Regions from separate parts of the Homo sapiens genome. Here region 2 is linked to region 1. A link means that fine-mapping ties the variant in region 1 to the expression of a gene that starts in the linked region. Tissue or cell type: whole blood. Region 1 holds a variant in brackets; the other region holds the start of a gene. All regions are shown on one strand. Distances are between the middles of the regions.

The links. PIP is the estimated chance that this variant, and not a neighbour inherited with it, causes the effect.
Region 2: it holds the start of NDUFAF6, and the variant in region 1 is fine-mapped to the expression of NDUFAF6 in whole blood (TOPMed, PIP above 0.99).

Annotation. Positions count from the first base shown.
Region 1 is chr8:94,971,783-94,979,982 of GRCh38, reverse strand. It overlaps a transcript of NDUFAF6 not described here. Among named protein-coding and RNA genes, the nearest start is that of TP53INP1, 27 kb to the right of the region's middle. RefSeq lists an enhancer at 4,148-4,711. The variant G/A (reference allele first, on the strand shown) is at 3,830.
Region 2 is chr8:95,020,154-95,028,329 of GRCh38, reverse strand. It overlaps NDUFAF6 (NADH:ubiquinone oxidoreductase complex assembly factor 6), which reads right to left and starts at 3,341. Exons shown (of 9, transcript NM_152416.4): 1 at 3,125-3,341. The coding sequence starts at 3,321. RefSeq lists a silencer at 3,050-3,419 and enhancers at 3,175-3,469, 3,436-4,282.

The DNA of each region.
Region 1 (8,200 bases):
TGGGATTACAGGTGCGCGCCACCACACCAAGCTGATTTTTTTTATTTTCAGTAGAGATGAGGTTTTTGCCATGTTGGCCAAGCTGGTCTTGAACTACTGGCCTCAAGTGATCCACCTGCCTCGGCCTCCCAAAGTGCTGGGATTACAGGCGTAAGCCATGGTGCCCAGCCCATTCCGGCCTGTCTTCTATGGATAAAGTTCGTTTTTTGTCATGGTCTTTTTTTACATTGTTGTGATCCTCCTGCACATATGTCTGCCTTTTCCCTTAGCATTATGTCATAAACATTTTCAAGGTTATTACATAGGCTTTATTAATATAAATTCTTTTTATAAAAACACTTGAAAAAATATTACAAAAACAATGTATTTGTGGCAAAATAATTCAAATAACACAGAAATATATAAAGTTAAAAAGTAAAATCCCCAGATTTCAGGAATGTGGACTAAACTCATGCTGAAATCTCCTTCATAAGACCCCAGGAAGAGATTTTTTAAAAGATACAAAAAGAAAGAGAGAAGGAAGGATGGAAAAGAGAGAGGGGTGTGAAAGACAATATAGCCACTTTTGAAAACAAGGAAGGACCCTCTCTTTAAAGGCTGGGCAGCATTCCTCAAGGAAGTGAGGAGATAGGAAAGCACAAGTCAAGAAGCCCCAGGTCCTCACCTCCAGGTGGGACTTGAAGCCCAGGGTGTAGGCAGAGGTGTAGCCCAGGTGGCAGAAGGTAAGCTTGGTCAGCCTCTGAAAATGGCCCACACCATCAAAAAGAAAATCTCAACAAAAGCGGGGATTTGCATCTGAGAAAAAATAATTACCAGAATGATGAGGATCTGAAAAGTAGTGACTTCAGATCCTCAGGACGGCTCTCAGTTTTAGCCGCATGCTAAAATCACCTGGGAGCTTAAACAGGAAACAAACACTGTTTTGCTCTACTACACTCAACCCTTCTGACACAAAATGTCTCAGGGCTTATTCTACCCCAAACACCCCAAACAATCCTCCAACTCTTTGGACACCAACTAGGTGTACCACAATTTAATTATGACACTAACTACCTGGAGTTACTGTAGATGCCACAGGTTAAGGGCTCAGTCCCACAAAACTGCCCCCAAACTTCAGATGCCAACTGCAGGTAGTGAGTCCCTAGGTTACCCACACTTCTTTCTAACTTGGCTACAAATTGGAGGTTCCCATTTGCTATGATGGCTCACAGAACTCAGGGAAACACTTATGTTTACCTATGTTTGCCAGCTTTTTTTTTTTCTTTTTTTGAGACAGGGTCTTGCTTTGTCTCCCAGGTTACAGCAAAGTGGAATGGCTATGGTTCACTGCAGCCTCGACCTCCCAGGCTCAAGCGATCCTCCCACCTCAGCCTCCCAAGTACCTGGACTATAGGCGTGCACCTCCAAGCCTGGCTAAGTTTTTATTTTTCATGGAGATGGGGTCTCACTGTGTTGCCAGAGCTAGTCTCAAACTCCTGGGCTCAAGTGATCCTCCCACCTTGGCCTCCCAAAATGTTGGGATTACAGGCATGAGCCACCATGCTTGGCCTGTTTACCAGCTTATTATAAAGGATATGATAGAGAATACAGATGAACAGCCAGATGAAGAGGTACATAGAGTGAGTCCAAAAGTGTCCTGAGGGCAAGAATTGGAGTGCGCCATCCTTCTAACACGCAGATGTGTTCACCAACCTAGAAGCTCTATGAGCCTTGTAGTCTTATGGAGGCTTCATCACATCGGCATGATGGGTTATTAACTCAATCTCCAGCTCTGCTCCCCTTCCTGGAGAATAGGGGATGGGACTGAATGTTCCAAGCTTCTAATCATGGCTTGGTCTTTCTGCTGACCAGTTCCCATCCCAAAGCTATCCAGGAGCCCCCCAAGAGTTGCCGAATTATTAATAGAACAAAGGACTCTTCTAGTACCCGGGAAATTCCAAAGGATTTAGGAGCTCTTTGTCAGGAACCAGAGTCCAAGACCAAGTATTAGAACAAACGATGTACCTAGCACCCCTGTCATTCAGGAAATTACAAGGGTTTTAGGAGCTCTGTGCCAGGGACTGGGGAGGAAAACCACTGATATGTTTTATTATATCATAATGTCACAGAGCTTTTCAGGGTTCATTGCCCACTACTCCCCAGAACAGATATTCCCTAGACTTAACTGTTCATCAGTTAAGTCAGAATTTCAAGTTCAAAAGCTTCAAAAGCAGGAAGCCAACAGTGCAGCCCTCAGTCTGAAGCCAAAGGCCTGAGACCCCCACAGAAGGCCACTAATGTAAGTTCCAGAGTCCAAGAGCTGAAGAATCTGGAGTCTGATGTCCAAGGACAGGAGAAGCGGAAGCAAAACATCTGGCACAAGGAGAGAGAGAGAGAGAGAGAGAACCCAGCAGGGTGCTTATGCCCCTTCTTATGCCTGCTTCGTTCTAGCCAGGTCAATTTTTTTTTTTTTTTTTTTTTAGAGACAGGGTCTTGCTCTTTGCTCAGGCTGGAGTGCAGAGGTGTGATCATGGCTCACAGCAGCCTCAATGTCCCAGGCTCAAGTGATCCTCCCACCTCAGGTCACCTGAGTACTATGAGTACTAGGGCTACAGTTGTGTGCCACCACACCCAGCTAATTAAAAAAAATTTTTTGTAAGGATAGGCTCTCTTTTTGTTGTCCAGGCTGGTCTTGTACTTCTGGCCTCAAGTGATCCTTCCACCTTGGCCTCCCAAAGCACTGGGATTACAGGCATGAGCCACTGCACCCGGCCCATATCAATATTTTTATGTACTTTTTATTGTAGTAGAAAAGCATAACATAAAATTTACCATCTTAACCTTTTTTTTTTTTTTTTTTTTTCTGAGTCAGGGTCTCACTCTGTCACCCAGGCTAGAGTGCAGTGGTGCAATCATGGCTCACTGCAGCCTTGACCTCCCTGAGTTTAGGTGATCCTCTCACCTAGGTGGGACCACAGGTGTGTGCCACCACGCTTGGCTAATTTTTGTATTTTTTGTAGAGATGGAGTTTCGCCATGTTTCCTAGGCTGATCTCAAACTCTTGGACTCAAGCGATCCGCCTGACTGGGCTTCCCAAAGTGCTGAGATTACAGGCCTGAGCCACTGTACCTGGCCTCTGAACCATTTTTAATTGTATGGTTCAGTAATATTAAGTACATTCGCATTGTTGTGAAACAGATCTCCAGAACTTCTTCACCTTGCAAATCTGAAACTCTATACCCATTAAACAACATAAACAACAACTTCCCTTTTCCTTCTCCCCAACCTCTGATGACCATCATTCTCCAAACATCAGTATTTTTTTTTTTTTAGATGAAGTCTTGCTCTGTTGCCCAAGTTGGAGTGCAGTGGTGTGATCTTGGCTCACTGCAACCTCCACCTCCCAGGTTCAAGCAGTTCTCCTGTCTCAGCCTCCCAAGTAGCTGGGACCACAGGCACCTACCACCGCACCCAGCTAATTTTTTTTTTTTTTTTTTTTTTTGAGATGGAGTGTTGCTCTGTCACCAGGCTGGAGTGCAGTGGCGGGATCTTGGCTCACTGCAACCTCCACCTCCTGGTTCAAGTGATTCTCGTAACTCAGCCACCCAAGTAGCTGGGATTACAGGGATGCGCCACCACACCCAGCTAATTTTTGTATTTTTAGTAGAGACGGGGTTTCACCACGTTGGCTAGGATGGTCTCAACCTCCTGACCTCGTGATCCGCCTGCCTCTGCCTCCCAAAGTGCCGGGATTACAGGCGTGAGCCACCACCACCCGGCCCAAACATCAGTATTTTTTTTTTTTTTTTGAGACACAGTCTCTGTCACCCAGGCTGGAGTGCAGTGGCAC[G/A]ATCTCGGCTCACTGCAAGCTCCACCTCCCGGGTTCATGCCTTTCTCCTGCCTCAGCCTCTCTGAGTAGCTGGGACTACAGGCGCCCGCCACCACGCCCGGCTAATTTTTTGTATTTTTAGTGGAGACAGGGTTTCACCGTGGTCTCGATCTCCTGACCTCGTGATCCACCTGCCTCTGCCTCCCAAAGTGCTGGGATTACAGGCGTGAGCCACTGCACCTGGTCCAAACATCAGTATTTTTAAGCTTCTCAGATATTCCAATGTGCAGCCAAAGTTGATTTCTTGTGCTCAGAAAACTAAAGCAGGGAATTATATCCACAAAATGAGAATGGGTGGCTGTAAAATAACAGCACATTATAATTAGAAAGAATTAGCAAAAGATGCTGAAAATAAAATACATGTAATTTTTGGAAGAAAAAAAATCAATAATGCTGTGAATATCAGGCTAGACACGACCATGAAGGCAGTCCCTTCGGATGCCTCACTTCCTAGCACTCATTCAGCCTCTTTCCTCCCACCTGTCCTCTCACCCTTTCTCTAACCCAATCCTAGACCCTGTGAATGTAGTTAAAAGAGCATCATAACAACAGTCTTCCAACCAAGAGCAACAAAGGAAGCTTCCAGGAGGCCAGCAGCTGCAGGTCACAGGGTTTCTGCGAATGTGCTCTTTCTAACTGCTATAGCTCCCCGCTGCCTGAGGCTCTGCTGGATTCCGACTCCCAGCATGGGAGACTCACCTGCAACTTTCGTTGAGAGTACATGGGGAGGGGCCTTGGCAGGAGCAGTTCAGTAGACATCTCACCATACCATTATCTCTTTTCTCCCCAACCTCCACCTTAGATTTATAGGAATATAAAATCTGATTAAAATAGCAATTAGGACAGCTTTAAAGGGAAAAATCAGCTCAAGGAAGCCACCTGCTGAATGTGAATGAAAGGGGATCCTCCAACCCACCCACACCTGCCCTCTGTCTCTACCTGGCCCTAACAGTTACAGGGGGTGGAGGAAGACTTGCTCTATCCCAGGGGCAACTCAGCATTGGAATGAGACAGTGGGAACTGGCAAACACATGACTTGGTTCAGGCTCCTCCAAGTGGTTATGTTGGTGGGCTGAGAAAGGAAGAAGCAAGGAGCTGGTGTTTTGGAACCTCGCAGATCTTGGTTTGACTTCCTGGGCTGCTACTTGCTTACTTGTTTTGGGCCAGAAGGCCCTGGGTTTGAATCTCAGGTTGACCCTTGGACAAACATCTACAGGTGTGGAAGTGAGCACCACGCCTCTAGCTGGACAGGCTTCTGAAGCTGGCAGGCTATGTACTTCCTGCATACGGGGAAAGGGACGTCCTTTGAGACCCCCTTAACAAGGAAAGGCTTGGCTACTGATACACTGGGAGCGGATGGACTACAGGCTCCAGGTACCTCTGCCCACAAGTTCCTTAGCATCTCTCCTATGGCATTCTACCTCCTGACAGCTTCCATGCCAGGTATGATGCTGCTTCCTTCTTCATCAACACAGCCTCACCGCTCAGCATATTGCTGCTTAAGCTGCCCCAATTCCATGGGGTTCCTATCTGCAGCATCAACAAATCCTGAGGGCTTGAGCTGGGGAAGGCATTGAAACAAACGGCTATAATATCCTTCCCTTCTTCTCCATACTGTCTGCAATATCTTGAAAGCTGGAGAACAATATACCCCTTCTTAAATGCCCAGGAAGAGAAGAGATTGGAAAATGGAGCTCCTGGGCCCAGTCTTGCTGGGGGCAAGTTTCTTTGAATCAGGAAAGTAGGTGAGGTAAAGGCCAACTCACTGTCCTCCCTCGCAGGAAGCCATGTCTGGTCATTATATTTTTCCGTGTCTTCCACCCCTACCACCTACCAGGTCTGTTTTACTGTGGTTTTTTTTTTTCCTTATAATAAAGATAATTTAAAAAAAAAACAGATTTGGCTCTAAGTAGACACCTGCTGCAAAGGGATGAGGAGATGGTATGGCCACAAGAGCTGGTCAGTGCCCTGAATGACCTTCCAGTTCCTGACTAATGGCCACAGTGCAGGGTGGTATGATGTTCCTGCTCTAACCTTGAGGACTGGCTGAGTGGCTTTCTGGAGTTCCCATAAAGACATTATTTGTTTTCCTCACTTTCATGAACACCCTTATCTTAGTTGGTTCAGGCTGCTATAATGAAAATACCATAGACTGAGTGGTTTATAAACAGCAGAAACTTATTTCTCACAGTTCTGGAGGGTGGGAAGTCCAAGATCAAAGATTCCATGTCTGGGGAGGGCCTTTTTTTTTTTTTTTTTAGAGACAGGGGTCTTGCTGTGTTGCCCAGGCTGGTCCTGAACTCTGGGCCTCAAGTAATCCTTCCACCTCGGCCTCCCAAAGCACTGGGTTTGCAGGTGTGAGCCACCACGTCTGGCCAAAGGTCACTTTCTTTTTTTTTTTTTTTTGAGACAGAGTCTCACTCTTGTCGCCCAGGCTGGAGTGCAGTGGTGCGATCTTAGCTCACTGCAACCTCCACCTCCCAGGTTCAAGCAATTCTCCTGCCTCAGCCTCCCGAGTAGCTGGGACTAAAGGTGCCCGCCACCACACCTGGCTAATTTTTTGTATGTTTAGTAGAGACAGGGTTTCACTGTGTTAGCTAGGATGGTCTCGATCTCCTGACCTCGTGATCTGCCCGCCTTAGCCTCCCAAAGTGCTGGGATTACAGGCGTGAGCCACCGCACCCAGCCCAAAGGTCACTTTCTGATTCATAGTTGGGCATCTTCTCACTATGTCCTCATGGGGGAGAAGGCATGAGGGAGCTCTCTGGTGTCTCTTTCATTTTATTTTATTTTATTTTTTGAGACAGAATCTCACTCTGTCACCCAGGCTGGAGGTCCTATCATCTCCATTTTACAGATAAGGAAAAAATACTGAGACACAGTGAAATTAAGTAGCTTGCTTAAGGTCACACAGCTAGGGAGTGGCAGAGCCAGGATTTGAACCCAGATAGCTTGCCTTCAGACATTTCAGTCCTAATCACATGGTAATTATTAAGGGTTTCTCTTAAGAAATGAGTATTTATTAATTTAGCTAGTTAGAGACAGAGTCTTGTTCTGTCACCCAGGCTGTAGTGAAGTGAAGCTATCATAGCTTACTGGAGCCTCGAACTCCTGGGCTCAAGCAATCCTCCCAGCTTGGCCTCCCAAAGTGCTGAGATTACAGATGTGAGGCACCATACCTGGCTAAGAATTGAATATTTATTTATTATTTATTTTTGAGACAGTGTCTTGCTCTGTCGTCCAGGCTGCATGCAGTGGCACAATCATGGCTCACTGCAGCCTCGACTGCTGGGCTTAAGCAAGCCTCCCACCTCAGTCTCCCGAGTAGCTGGGACTACAGGCATGCACCACCATGCCTGGATGATCTTTTTTTTTTTTTAAGTTTCAGTAGAGACAGGGTCTTGCTACGTTGCCCAGGCTGGTCCTAAACTCCTGAGCTCACACAATCCTCCCACGTTGTCCTCCCAAAGTGCTGAGATTATAGGAGAACTGAATTTTTAAATTGTACTTAATTTTATGATCAAAAACTCATTTTCCTTTAGGTTGGTCTTTGATCTATTTTAAAGATCACATTGTGGCTGGGTGTGGTGGCTCAGGCCTGTAATCCCAGCACTTTGGGAGGTTGAGGCGGGCAGATCACTTGAGTTCAGGAGTTAGAGACCAGCCTGACCAACATGGCGAAACCCCATATCTACTAAAAATACAAAAATTAGCCTGGTGTGGCGCACGCCTGTAATCCCAGCTACTTGGCAGGCTGAAGCAGGAGAACTGCTTGAACCCGGGAGGCAGAGGTTGCAGTGAGCCAAGATCGAGCCACTGCAATCCAGCCTTTGCAATGGAGCGAGACTCAGTCTCAAGAAAGAAAAAAAAAATCATGTTGTATCTATTCTTTGCTCTCTAAATCTGCCTTGCTACTCCATGGACCAAAACAGTTAAAGAATAACCTGGTTGGACTTTTCAGAAAGTAGCTTTCTAGGAGAGCTTTCTCTCTGACACTATCAGAATCTTTGTTTTTCTGATTTAGCATTTATTAAATAACTACAGTTTGATAGGTAAAGGAAGCAAGATGGAGGTAACACTGCCAGAAAATTTTAAAATGCAGCTAGTTGATTTCCAGCTACCAACTACATCATTCTTCAATTTGCAGATGAGTCAGAATTTTTTTTGAGACGGAGTTTTTTTTTTTTCCGCTCTTGTTGCCCAGGCTGGAGTGCAATGGCACAATCTTGGCTCACTGCAACGTCCGCCTCCAGAGTTCAAGTGATTCTCCTGCCTCAGCCTCCCGAGTAGCTGGGATTATAGGCGCAAGCCACCACACCCTGCCAATTTTTC
Region 2 (8,176 bases), 48 kb before region 1:
CAGATAATGAGAAATGCCATATTACGGATGTATATATAACAGCTTTATATGGCAATAGGGCAAATAACCTCTCATTCATTCTAACATCTATGCAGTGCCTACTATGTGCCAGGCACTGTTCCAGACACTGAAGATGGGTACTGACTTCGATTGAGTTGAGAGAGACAGACATATAAGAAACAAGCACACGGGGTATTAGGATTGTTGTGTGTTAGTACCATGGACCTGTGCCACTGAGGCACAAAGGAAGTGATTCCCTGGTGAGATTGCAGCAAAGTAAAGAACATTAGTGCACTCCAACACCACCAGTAGTACCTCCTCACCTTCTCACTACAGCCTGAGGCTCTGTGTTTATCCTCCTCAAAGCCAAAGTCGGAGAAGCCTATGTAAATTAGGTTTGAGATTTTCCCAAAAACCTAAATTGCTAGGAGAGCCGAGGATGGTGAACCCGAAGTTATGGCCTGCTATTTTTCCTGCTATTTAGAGGCCTTGCATAAAATGCACGTCCAAAACAACCCTGCATAATTTCAGAGGCCAAATCTTGCAGAGATTATTGATGGACAATTAGAAGCCAGAAATTCTATTTCAAGTTTATTTTTATTTTTTAAACTTATATTTGTCATGTGTCTGAACTCTGCTAAGCATTTTTTACTATATCATCACATTTAATCCTCACAACACCAGGCTATAAGGTAAGAGTAAACATTTACAAATGAGGAAAAAACCGAATCTTTTTTTTTTTTTTTTTTTGAGACAGGGTCTCATTTTGTCACCCAGGCTGGAGTGCAGTGGCAAGATCTTGGCTCACTGCAGCCTCAACCTCCCATGTTCAAGTGATCCTCCTCTCTCAGCCTCCAGAGTAGCTGGGACTACAGGTGCTTACCACCATGCCCAGCTAATTTTATTTATTTTTTGTAGAGAAGGGGTCCCACTATGTTGCCCAGGCTGGTCTGGAACTCTTAGGCTCAAGCAATCCTCCCTCCTCAGCCTCCCAAAGTGCTAAGGTTACAGGTGTGAGCCATGGTGCCCAGCCAACATGGAATCTTAAAGAAACCTTCCCAAGTGATAGAGCTGGGATTAATACTCTCAAATCAGGTCTGCCTGCAAAATTCAGCATTTGAAATAAGTCACTAGAGTCAAGAGCCCCCATTCCACACAAATAACATGGACAGTTTAAGTAACTGACCATTTGTAAATACAGTATATATACTTGAGAAAAACTAGCATGTGACTGAAGTAAAAAATAACTAATAATGTACTTAAATATTTTTGTTTGTTTGTTTTGAAACAGGGTCTTGCTCTGTTGCCCCAGCTGGAGTGCAATGGAGCAAACTCGGCTCATAGCAGCCTCAGCCTCCTGGAGTGAAGTGATCCTCCCGCCTCAGCCTCGCAGTAGCTGGGACCACAGGCTGTGCCACCAAGCCCAGCTAATTTTTTTATTTTTTGTAGCAACAGCATCCCGCTATGTTGCCCAGGCTGGTCTCAAACTCCTGGCATCAAGCAACCCTTCTGCCTAGGCTTCCCAAAATGCTGAGATTACAGGTGTAAGCCATTCCTCCAGCCTTAAATATTTGTAAATCCACAGACTATCCCTGGAAAAATAGATAAGAAATTTTTAAAAGTGATTATCTCTGCAAAGTTATGACACTAGCGGCTATTGGGTGGTATACTCTGGCAACTTAAAGTTTTTATCATCAAAATATAACAACTTAAATATATAAAAATAATGCAATCTTTTCACAATTTTGGCTTTTACAATTTTTTTTGGCTTTTACAATTCTTAATGCCTGATTTCCATTACTGCTATCTTGTTTCTCTTACAAGTAATCAACAAATAAGGTAGGAAATAAATAATTTTTGTTTTTGTTGTTTTTGAGACTGTCGCCCAGGCTAGAGTGCAGTGGAGCGATCTTGGTTCACTGCAACCTCCACCTCCCAGGCTGAAGCGATCCTCCCACGTCAGCCTCTGGAGCAGCCGGGACCACAAGCGCGGGACACAACGCCCAACTAATTTTTTATTTTTTTGTAGGGATGGGGTTTCGCCATGTTGGCCAGACTGGTCTCAGACACCTGGGCTCAAACAACCCACCGGTCTCAGCCTCCTAAAGTGCGGAGATTACAGGCGTGTAGCCACCGCGGCCGGCCCACAATTTTTAAAAGGGATTATAAACAAAACACTGAAATGCATGCATTTTGTTGTGTTATGCTGCTTTTCTCTAAAATGGAATTAAAAAAAAAACGGTTTTACTTGCATGATCAACTTCAAGGTAGTTTAGTCATTCAAGTACTTTTGGTAAGTCCTTGAGACCAAGTACTTCAAGACCTTACCCCAGTCTTTCAAATGAGACATAGCAGAAGGGCAGAGGGGCTAAGCCACTGGTCTCAGCAGTCAGGCCTGGATTCCCAGGGGTCCCTGCCGCATGAACCAGGTGACCTGATTGATCCAACCCACCTCCACAAATGATTAAGGAGCGACACCCAAGTGCCAGGCCTTCCCAGCACTACGCCCGACAAACAAAACACTTCAGGGCTCTGACTTTATGAGGCTATTCTTGTGAACCTGTGGCAAATTCTCTAATCACTATAAAACCCAGTTTCCTTGTCTGTTAAATGAGATAATAATGACTTCCACTCACTGTGCCCTTACTATATGCCAGGAATTGTTCTAAATGCTTTATAACTCACAACCTTAAATGATAGGTCTACATTTGTCCGTCGCAACTTGTAATGAAGACTAATTACTCGTAATCTGCTTTGCATAATGCCAGGCACACAGAAAGAACTCAAAGTTGGCTACCGTTGTGGTTAAAACTAATAGACGTTCTGTGAATAACAAAGGTTATTCATGCAAAAACGCTGAATTCGGCTAAAATTAAGGTTCAGATAAGGCGACAAGCGTGGGCAGTCGAAGGAATTTTGCCATAATTTTGTGACCCATGTGAATGTTCCTGTGGGCCCGCTGCCTCCGCACACCCGCACCCGACGCCCACTAGAACGCACACCCAGAGGGGCACGAGGAAGGCGCCGGTCCGCTCGCTCAAACGTCAGGCCAGACGCGAGGCGCAGCCGCTCCCACCCCGGGACCCCGCTTCCCGCCGCGCCAGGGAAGGTCGTGCTCGCTCACCGCAGCAGCTCCAGGCAGTAGTGGTCAGTGCCCCAGGCGCCCGGTCCGCTGGCCGCAGCCACGCTCCGCCCAGACACCTCCGGCCCGGGCAGCCGCCGCATGCGCGCGTACAGACCCAGAGGCGGCCGGCGGCAGCACAGGCCGGGGATGCCAAGCCGCAACGGCCCCCAGACAGAGCCGTGCGCGGAGGCCGCCATGACGCCGGCACTGCGTGCCCTTCGACCCCCCGCCGTCGGCGCGCAGCTACGCCCCGGCCACGCCCCTGCAGGTTCCCCTATGCTCCTTTGAGTCGCGGGAAGGCAGCCTCTGGACGCCGCTCAAAGAAGAGCCAGGTGTCGCTGTGGTCCTCTGCATCTGGGCCGCCGCCGCGACTCTTTGGCCTTCGTTCCAGGAAAGACCCGCCCAAGTCCGTCCGACCCCTCCTGGGCTCTTCCCCTTCCCCCACGTGCATCCACAGGCGACCTCAGAGCACCTACAAGAAGTGATGGGTGCTGCTGGTGAAGGAAGTAGCTGCCAAAATCACGCCCCGCCGCCCCTATACCCCAAATCCACCATGAGAACAGAACACCTTGCACTGTTTCTCAACAGGGGCTGCCTTGGCACTTTGGGCGCAATAGCGCTGTCCCGCACGTTGCTGGAAGTTTGCAATAGGTGAATGCCCAGTCTTGGTGACCACCAAACGCCCACACACCACCAAAGGCCTCTGGAAATGTCGCCCTGTTTGGGAACCACTGGCCACCTAACACCTCCAGCAGAAAAGCACACACATCTCTCAGAGAAGCCACACAGTAGGCCATTATCAACCACTACCTATAGCTAACCTGCTTGCTGACTTTTTTCTCCCAGTATCCTCTGGGTTCCATACGGGCAGTGCCATTATTTTGTTTCCTGCTTTACCCCAATGGCTGTCACTTGAAAATTGTAGAAGCTGAAGTGCCTCAGTTCACATAAATAGTAAGTAGTCGGGTAAGATCCAAACATTCAAAATATCTGTGTTATTCCACAATCTTATTTGGACAGGGAAAGGAAGTGAAGACGGCCATAGGCCAGAGCCTGCTTGTCTGGGCCTCCAAGGTCCAGCATGGAACTCCAAGGAGTCAAAATTTTCAATGTAAACCTGACCTTTCAGGTCCTTAGGAAGATGTATTTATCAAGGCAGGAAGACAGAGCTTTTAACAGTTTACTAACTTGATTTATAACTTTTTTTTTTTTTTTTGAGACAGAGTCTCACTCTGTTGCCAGGCTGGAGTGCTGTGGCTTGATCTTGGCTCACTGCAACCTCCGCCTCCCGGGTTCAAGCGATTCTCCCGCCTCAGCCTCCCGAGTAGCTGGGACTACAGGTGCACGCCACCACGTCCAGCTAATTTTTGTCTTTTTAGTAGAGATGAGGTTTCACCATGTTGGCCAGGATGGTCTCGATCTGACCTCATGATCCGCCCACCTCAGTCTCCCATAGTGCTGGGATTAACTTTGAATATTTGTTCACATGGTATGTTGGCTTCCTTTGGTACTCTTACTTTCAGGGCCCTCAAATATTAGAGGTGGGTCTAGCTGCTACCAACTAGCTGATCCCAGCCAGCAGCTGCCTACACTTGAATCCCTCTTGCCTCCAGATTTGCCTAGACTTTTCTTGCTATGGCCAGACTGGTTCTTTCTAAAATGTCCATCTGATCATGGCGTTTCCCTACTTGACAGCATTTACTGTGTGTTATATGCAGTCCGTCCATGATGTGGCCTCAATTTACCTTTCTGCCTCAACTCTGGCCACTTGCCTTTGTGACTCCAAGTTAATGTTTTTGTTTAAACCCAAGGTAAAGCACCTTGTCCTCTGGCCCTAAGAACTCTAACCAATTCATGCAACTTTGGTTTTTACTCTCTGAAATTACCTTTCTTCATCCTGTGTAGTAGCAGAACCCCGGTGGTGGGTGTTACCCTTTCATCACCAGTGACTGGTCCAGGACAGTGCATATTTCCCTGATCTGGCCAATTAGACTTGAGAACAAGTCCACTGTGGTGCTTCTGGGAAAGTTGCTTCACTAATAAAAGGAAACATAAAATTCAATATACTACATATGAAATATTCTTGGCAAAAAGGCTTAACATAAAGTTAATTAAGCTTCTAAATCTAATTTTAAAGTTTATAAGAAAAAGACAAGAAACAAGATAAATCGACACCACAGGGAAACAAATCAGAAAAATTCGAAAGAAAAACCCAATGTCACTCCTGCGATTAGGTTATAAAAGGTCTGCACCTTCCATATTTCATCTTGGGTGCTCTCTCTCTCTCTCTCATCACTTACTCTGTGGGAAGCTAGCTGCCATGACACGTGAGGGGGATTAGTCCTTTGTCTGTAATATAGATCATTATTATTTTCCTCAGTTAGGTTTTAGTTTTGTCTTTGCTTGTGGAATCTTTGCCATGCAGAAATTTTGCAATATATTTTTATCTAGTCAAATTTACAATATTTACTTTTATGGCTTCTGGATTTTGCAGTCTTTAAAAAGGCCTTCCCCATTTTAAATGTGTTAAAAGAATCCCTTGCTTTCTTCTAGTCCTTCTGGTTTCTCTCGTACTACTTGTAGATTTCACTTTTTTACATTTCTTTTTTTTTTTTTTGGAGGGGTAAAGATTAGGAAGGTATGAATCTAACTTTTTTCTTTATATCTAGTAGTTGTCTTACTATCATTTATTCAGTAGTCCACCTTTTCCTCCTTTGATTTGAGATGCTTCCTTTTTCACAGAATAAACTCATGCATATACTTTGTGTCTATAGTGTTCCATTTGTCTATTAATGTTCTAGTAGTAAACTCTTTTAACTATTGCGTCTTTAAAATATGTTTTCATAGATATCTAGTAGGGCTAGTCCTTCTTCATTACTCTTTTTCTCTTCCCCGGTCTTCCTGGCCATTCTTGTTTATTTTCCCATTTGGCTTTTAGGATCAGCCATTCGATTAAAATAATTCTGAAGGTATTTTCATTACAGCTATGTTAAATTTATACCTAATGTATGGAAAACTGGTATTTTTATTATATTGAACCTTCATAAACATTTTTAATTACAGCATTATAGTTCATCTTATCAACAGATATAACACATTAACTATGCCCTTATTCAATCCTTATATTTTCCACAATTAAATACTTTTTAGATGAACCACTACTAAAAAGGAAAAACAATTTTTCTATACTTATGCAACCCTTCTGACACTACATGTATAGATCTTCCACACCAAGCATTTTCAGGACTACACAGTTAGGACAGAATCCACAGGTTCAGAGTTCAGTCTCACAAGGCTGCCCCCTACTTTGGACACCAGTAGCAATTAGTGAGTCCTTAGGTTACCCATGCTTTTGTTTGACTTGGCTACAAATCAAGGATTTTCAGGACCTTCCTCCTCAGGTTTGATAATTTGCTATGATGGCTCCCAGATATCAGGGAAACACTTATATATATTTACTGGTTTATTATAAAGGATATAGATAAAGGTCAAAGAACAAATATAACACATTTATAACAAAAGATGCTGTCCCTTAATGGTCCAGAGAACATGTTTCTGACTTCCTGCCAAAAGGACACATACTGAGTTTTTTTCTTAGAATGACAGTGACTTGTGAGGAGCTGTTCTATGCACATACTGCCTCCTGATTCGTCTAGCAACCAGTAGCACGTGCCAAGAAGGGAAAAGGCTCACAGAGTTGGAAATATAGTCTGTTGCCTTGGGATAGTGTTTCTGGACAAAACATTCTTCTAGGGAAATAAGAAATTTCATCCTAGCTGATCCACAATTCTATTGCATAACTGAAGGTCACACCTGGTGCTAAGTTAAATGTTTGTCACTAAAGAGATTTCCATTTGGCAAACAAAATATTGTGGGATTATGCTGTTCCCTCTTTCTGGATTGTCCTTGTGTGCTGTATCTTCAAGGAGGCCATTTGGTGATAATCCCAAATCCCCAGCCTTTAACCAGCCACCTACGGCCTCTACAGACTCCCAAGAGAGCTACACAGAGGACAGTCCTGGCAAATGGGCAATGTTTATTACACTGTTTTTACAAACCCCACTGCTAAGCTTGTCTGGATCACTTCAAAGGCAAAAAGACATGTAGAAAGACAAACCCAACAAAAATGGTGTGATTCAAGACCTAAATCAAAGTAAGCCGCAACCCAAGGCTTTCCTGAGATTTGGGGTTATAGGAGGAGAGCTCTAAGTTTGTCCTTGTCACCACAAAAGTTCTAATGCCCTTTTTCCCTTTCATGAACCTCTACTCATCCCCCAAACACCTAATTAAACACCTCTTCCTTCCTGAATTTTCCTTGACCATAACCCCATCCAAGAAAAAAAGAGTTGTTCCCCCAGTTTTGATCCTATAACAATTTGTGTTCATGTTTGATCACTTTGCCAGGTCTTACTGTGGTGATCTGCTTATATGGCCCTCTTCCCAGACTGCCAAAGGTAGATGTTTTCTTACTCCTCTTTTTATCTCCAGTGCCTGGCCAAGTGCCTGGCATTGGGAGGTGTTAGTGTATCGTTCTGAAGGCCAAGTTTTTTGGCACCGGAAATAAGACACCAGGTTATGCAGTGTGTGCACTGCACAAACATGCCTGGCTAAGGGAGCAAGAGGGGCTGGTGTGGGCTGGTGTGGCATTGTCTCTGCTCAGAGGAAGGGTAGCCTTTCTCTTCACACAGAGAGGCATGTGCCTGCAGGGCTGCCTCAGCCCAGATGGGGACCTTCTCATTTATAACAAGGCACCATACAGGCTTGCAGTCTTAGTGACTGAAAGAGCAAATCAGACTCAGCAAGTTTAAGAAGGGCAGAATATGAAGAAAATACAAAGTTGAAAGGAATATTTCCCCTTGTGAAGGGTTTCCACTATTCGTTTAATAGTCAAGCCTTACAGTTATCTGATTTTAAGGAACCTATTATCAGCAGCTATGAAAAAGAGGAACTTGAATGCATCATGCTTTTTGGGTAGTTTACTTATCCTCAATTACCTTTGTTTTTTTGAGACAAAGTTTCACTCTTGTCGCCCAGGCTGGAGTGCAATGGTGC